2 separate regions of the Homo sapiens genome follow, and region 1 is linked to region 2. Evidence: fine-mapped expression QTL. Tissue or cell type: cerebellum. Region 2 holds a variant in brackets; the other region holds the start of a gene. All regions are shown on one strand. Distances are between the middles of the regions.

Region 1 (2,616 bases), 310 kb after region 2:
TTTTATCATTGTTGGCGTCCTGACCCAAATACAAGGAAACCTCCACATTCCATTAGCAGACTCAATTTGGATTCTGCAGCTCTGCAGGGAGAAATAGCATCTTCTCCTTAGCTAGTTGTGCTGCACTCTTGAGATAATTCTCTTAGTTTAATTTTAACATTTGGTTTAAGAAGATGCTGATGGATCAAATTTGAAACTGTGGATCCACTAAACGCCTTTTTAGAAGGTTTTTTTTTTTTCTTTCAAAATAGCAAGCCTTAGGAGCTCAACTCCAGAGCCAATTCACTTCGCGTGAAGTCGGCACTCCTTGGGAGTAGAGGTCCCCTCTCACCGGCTCCCACCCTCCAGAGGGGAGGATTTCTGGGGAGCCCGACGATCCGCTCGCTTTTAGCCTTTCTCCTTGCAACGCGCAAATCTCTCCCTAGTTGGGCTCAAGTAGAGAGGATCACCAACTGCTCATCCCAGCGGACACTCTGCAAAAAACTCTAATGGCTTGTGCGCGGGTCCACGCTGGTCGCTAGCGGCGCCAACTTTACTCATTCGTTAATTTGCTAGTTTTTGGACTGAGTAAAACAGCCCCCAAAGACGCGGGCAAACGCCGCTCTAAAGCCCACTACCATGCAACGCCAGGTTGCTCGGAGCCACGCTGGTGGCACTTCCCCTTCGTGCTCACTCTGCACAGGCACCTCCAGAACCCCGTGCAAATGAACCCTACCGGGAGACGCAGGTGGGCAGGTCGGGTCGGCAGGGACCAAGAGCCTGAAAGGGAACCTGCCCTCCCCTCCCCGCAGCCCGGTCATTAAGGCAAGAAACTGCAGGCAGAGAAGCCCCCGAATCCGACCTAGGACGTCGGCGCCTGCCAGGATCCCCTCGCCTGCCCCCCGCGCCCCGCGCGCGCTCATGCCACCACCACGGGGAGGGTGCATGCGGCAGGTGCCTGGCCGAGGCCCCCGGGAGCGAGTCGCCCTTACGTGCTCCAGCTTGTCTTTCCTCCGAAGCCAGACGCTGGCGCTGTAGTCCTGCTGCTTGACGCTGCTGTAGAAGTTCGCGCCCACTCGGGTCAGGCTTGGGGAGGGCTCCTTGGGGCGGCTTTTGAGCCTCATCTGCTCGAAGCCCTCATGGGGGGAGGCCGAGAGCCACTCGTGCTGCCGGATCTCCATCCTGACATGACCGGGCGGCCGCCGGCGAGCAGCGGACTCGGGACGGGCGCGCGGGGAGCCGGGCGCGGAGGGCGAGCGGGAGGCCCAGCGGGAGCCGGAGGTGGAGCTGGAGACTGAGCTGGAGGAGCTGGAGGAGCGAGCGGGCGCGGGGAGCGCGGGGTGCTGAGCGCCAGCTGGGAGCGCGGCCGGGCGGGAGGGGGCGATCGCGGGAGGCGCGGGGCGGAAGGAGGGAGGGCGAGGTGCGGGCGGGGGCGGGGGCGGGGGCGGAGGGGGACGGACGGGGAGAAGGGGGACGAGAGGGGACAGGGAGGGAAAGGAACCTGCTCCGGGGAGACAGAAGTGCCCGGTGCGGCGGCGACGTCGCCCGGCGGCTGCGGTCCCGAGCGGGCGCTCCGCTCGCCGGCTCCTTGCGGCACCTACTGGGACCCGGGCCGGCTCCCGGGGCGGCGGCGGCGGCGGGGGTGGGGTGCGGTGGGAGGGGCCGCGGCTGGCCCAGCCAGCCCGCGCCTGCAGGTTGGTGCAGTGAGGAGCCGCCGCCGCCCCTCCCGCCGCGCCCAGGCCCGGGCGGCCGCGCTCCCGCTCCGCACCCGCCTTTCCCGAGCAGGCTACACCTCTCCCTGGCGCATCTTTACTGGAAAGCCGGCAGGCGAGGGGAGAAGTGAGCGCCGTCTCCGCGCCTCCTCGGTCCTGCTGGCTGAGCGCGGGGATGGCTCCGGAGGGAGACACTCAGGAAACCACCTCCGCCCTTCCCCCATCTCTATCCAGCGGCGCCCCCTCACCCTGCCCCCGGCTCGCTTGGGCTGCGCCTTCCCCCATTCTGAAAGTTCACTAACTTCCCACCCCAAGGGACTTAGAGCAGAGGGTGCCCAGCATTCCCCCCTGAAAATAGCCGAGAGACATGTGTTTTCTGGAGCCGTACACGCTACTTTCATCCGATGGTGTGGCGATGCAAATACGCCCGGGGGCAGTAGCCCCTCGGGCAGGCACGCGGGACCGGTTGCTCCCCAGCCCTCGGTGTCCACCTAGAACCGGGCTCCCCGGGCCGCACCCATTCCGATCCTGGGAGGGTGATCCAGGGCTCCTCTGCAACGCTCCGCTTGTGCGGTGACTGTTCCTTAGGTGGACGTGGCCCAACTGCTGTGCATTTGTTTCTTTTCTCTGTTTCTAGGCCCCTAGGGTCCAGGCTTTTCCTTCGGGGCCCAGCCAAGCGTGATGATTATTAGGAATAGGGTGGCTTGTTCGCGATTAAATCTTCAATCTCTTCATCTTTTGCTATCTTTGGAGTCAACCTCTCGAAACATTTTTTGGTTTTATCTAAATGCTAAACAGCTGGTGTTCAGGGTGTCTCGTGTCTGGTTAAAAGCTTGGGAAGTGTATGGAAGCTGGAGAGGTATACAGGGGATTTTAGAGGGTGTTGCCAAGGGTAAACTGAAGGCTCTCTAGCCCTCGGCAGAAC
Region 2 (2,756 bases):
TGAAGTTTAAGGTACGAAACCGTTCTGTAACATAGAAGTGCCAGGTGAAGCAGAAAGTGATGATAGAGAAGCTGCAGTAGTTATCCAGGAGACCTAGCTGGGATCATCGATGAAGCTGGATACACTAAACAACAGATTTTCAATGTAGACAAAACAACCTTCTATTAGAAGAAGATGCCATCTAGGACTTTTGTGGGAGTTCAGTCAGGCTCGTGGGAAAAATTTTAAGATGAAGTTATAGGATATACACACAAACCTTCTTGGAAGGCCGGAAGGTTTTGCAAAAGTTTCAGGATAGGGTTATGGCTAAAAGCAGCCTAATCCTTACCTTGAGTTAGTAGCTTGGGACGCAGATACAAAGGAATGTAAAGTATTTTATCTAAATAGCTTGTTTACTCATGTGGTCCTAAGACCAACCTTTGATCATTTGTGGGCAGGATGGCCCTCTCCAGGGTGGGGGCAGCCAGGTTAATTACCCACAGTGGTTGACTCAAAGCCTTTGTCAATTAAATCTGTACTAACTAAATACAAGCATTGCCAGCTTGGAGGAGCTGCAAAACTCTCTTCGGCTGCTGGTGCCGGCCGCCCCCTGGCCTGCTCTTTCACTGAGTATCAGTGTCTGAGTACCTGTCTCATCCGTCATGCAGCTGAGGTCTGTAGGACAGACCCCCACAAGTGGCGCCCTGCATGAGGAACGCTACAAAAGGATCACGATGGACCCCCCGAAAATGAAGGTGAAAAAGGAACTGCACAGTCAGTAAGTCATTGGTGCCTGCTCAGGATTTCCAAGTTCACAGGGGATTATTCAGGCTAGGGTTTCATCACAGGACAACAGTTATCAGCTTAACAGAAACAGTATATAGAAGTATTGAAACAGCTGCTTAAAGCTAGTGGAGCCTATGTTTGGCAGGCTCAATTAAGGGACCTAATGCAAACTGTTGTATCCCAAAACCCATGGTTCCCTGAAGAAGGCATGCTAGACGTAAAGCTCTGGAACAAGTGGGGAGAAATCTTAAACATTGCATGCAAGGGCAAGGTCCCAGTATCATCTTTAATGCTATGGGCCTTAGTTAGGGCAGCCCTGGCTCCATTATACACAGAAGAGCCTAAAAAGGAGAAGGAGGAAGAACCATCACCTGCTTTACCACCTCCTCTTCCCTCAGCCCCGATATCACCAGGCCAAAATAAAAAAGGGGAAACGGAGGTTTTGCCTAAGCCCCCTCCTCCAGTAGATAGGAAAAAGGACAGGGGATATGCTACAGCGAAGAGACCCTGTCTTAAGCAAGCAGCATTAAAAGGGGAGCTCTTTGCCTGCCCAGTAATGCAAGATCAACAAGGCAATCAGATGTATAAACCCATTTCTTTTAACGCTTATTTAAAAATACGAAAAAACATTAAAGACCAGAGCTGCGCGACCATGCGAGCGGTGGGCAGAAGGAAAGGCTCAGCAGCAGGGAGGCTTGCAGACCTGGAGCCAACA[G/A]ATGCTCCCAGGAACTCGACCTGCATAGTAGCAACGCAATGAGGAGCCAGGCCCAGCATGCAGAAGCTAGCCTGCTGGGGATGGGCAGGAGGCACATGCAGGAAGGTTTGTGCAGCAGGCAGCAGCCGCCAGGCAGCGGGGTGGAGGAAGGAGCAGTACAGAAAGAAGCAGCACAGACAAAGCACAGCGCCTAAGCAGGTGCAAAGTGGCTGCCGCCCTGGGGCCTGCCTGCTCAGCTCTCCAGCTCTCCGGCCTGTGGCAAAATTTTGTGTGCTCCTTATGTACAAGCGACATCCCAGATTGTAATTCTATGCTAAGATTTGAGTAAAATTTAAAAATTTAAAAAACCTCTTTCTGATAATGGCCACCGTTATCTCTCTCCTACCCCTGACGTGGCTCTTTCAAGATCTGATTTGGGTAGAACAGTTGCCTTTGAAGGGAGAGAAATTACAGAAAGCCCATGAATTAGATAAAGAGCAATTAAAAGCTGGACATGTAGAACCATCAAATAGTCCTTGGAATTCGCCCATTTTTGTCATTCCCAAAAAGTCTGGTAAATGGAGACTTTTGCATGACTTACATGCTATTAATGCCAATTTGCAACCTATGAAACCCCTTCAGCAGGGGCTCCCTTCCCCCGTGGTGATTCCTCACAATTGGCCTATAATTGTTATTGACTTAAAAGACTGTTTTTATATGATTCCCCTAGCAGAACAGGACAGAAAAAAATTTGCGTTTACAATAATGAAAGGCCAGCTTGTCGATTTCATTGGAAAGTGCTTCCTCAAGGAATGCTAAACAGTCCTACCATGTGTCAGTATCATGTAAATCAAGCTTTGCTCCCCAGTAGAAAAGAATTTCCTGATTGTAAGGTTATTCATTTTATGGATGATATTTTACTAGCAGCCCCAACAGAACTAATGCTTTTAAATCGACATACCTCTGTCATAAAGAATACAGCTAAAAGGTTTAATTATTGCACCTGAAAAAGCACAAATGTCCTCTCTTTGGAAATATCTTGGGTACATACTAACGTCCCGGTCAGTAAGACCTCAAAAGGTTAAATACTAGCAACTTACACACTTTAAATATTATCAGAAATTACCAGGCATATCAACTGGCTCTGCCCCACTTTAGGCATTCCGACTTATAAGCTGCAAAACCTGTTGTCTATCTTAAAGGGCAATACAGTCCTGGATTCTCCCAGAGAGTTAACCCCCGCAGCAAAAAGGGAAATTGAGAAAATAGAACAAGCCACCTCTCAGAGGCAACTAGA

Direction of the effects. Positions count from the first base shown, and alleles are read on the strand shown. Sizes are in standard deviations (SD) of each study's normalised expression.
With allele G in place of A in region 2, the expression in cerebellum of the gene that starts at base 1,581 in region 1 is higher (moderate effect, 0.60 SD a copy in GTEx).

The links. PIP is the estimated chance that this variant, and not a neighbour inherited with it, causes the effect.
Region 1: it holds the start of PLD5, and the variant in region 2 is fine-mapped to the expression of PLD5 in cerebellum (GTEx, PIP 0.98). The same link has a PIP of 0.9 or more in cerebellar hemisphere.

What each region holds. Positions count from the first base shown.
Region 1 is chr1:242,523,117-242,525,732 of GRCh38, forward strand. It overlaps PLD5 (phospholipase D family member 5), which reads right to left and starts at 1,581. Exons shown (of 10, transcript NM_001372062.1): 1 at 972-1,581. The coding sequence starts at 1,160.
Region 2 is chr1:242,210,997-242,213,752 of GRCh38, forward strand. The region is part of intron 5 of PLD5 (phospholipase D family member 5); the gene reads right to left. Among named protein-coding and RNA genes, the nearest start is that of MAP1LC3C, 210 kb to the left of the region's middle. RefSeq lists an enhancer at 1-509. The variant G/A (reference allele first, on the strand shown) is at 1,481.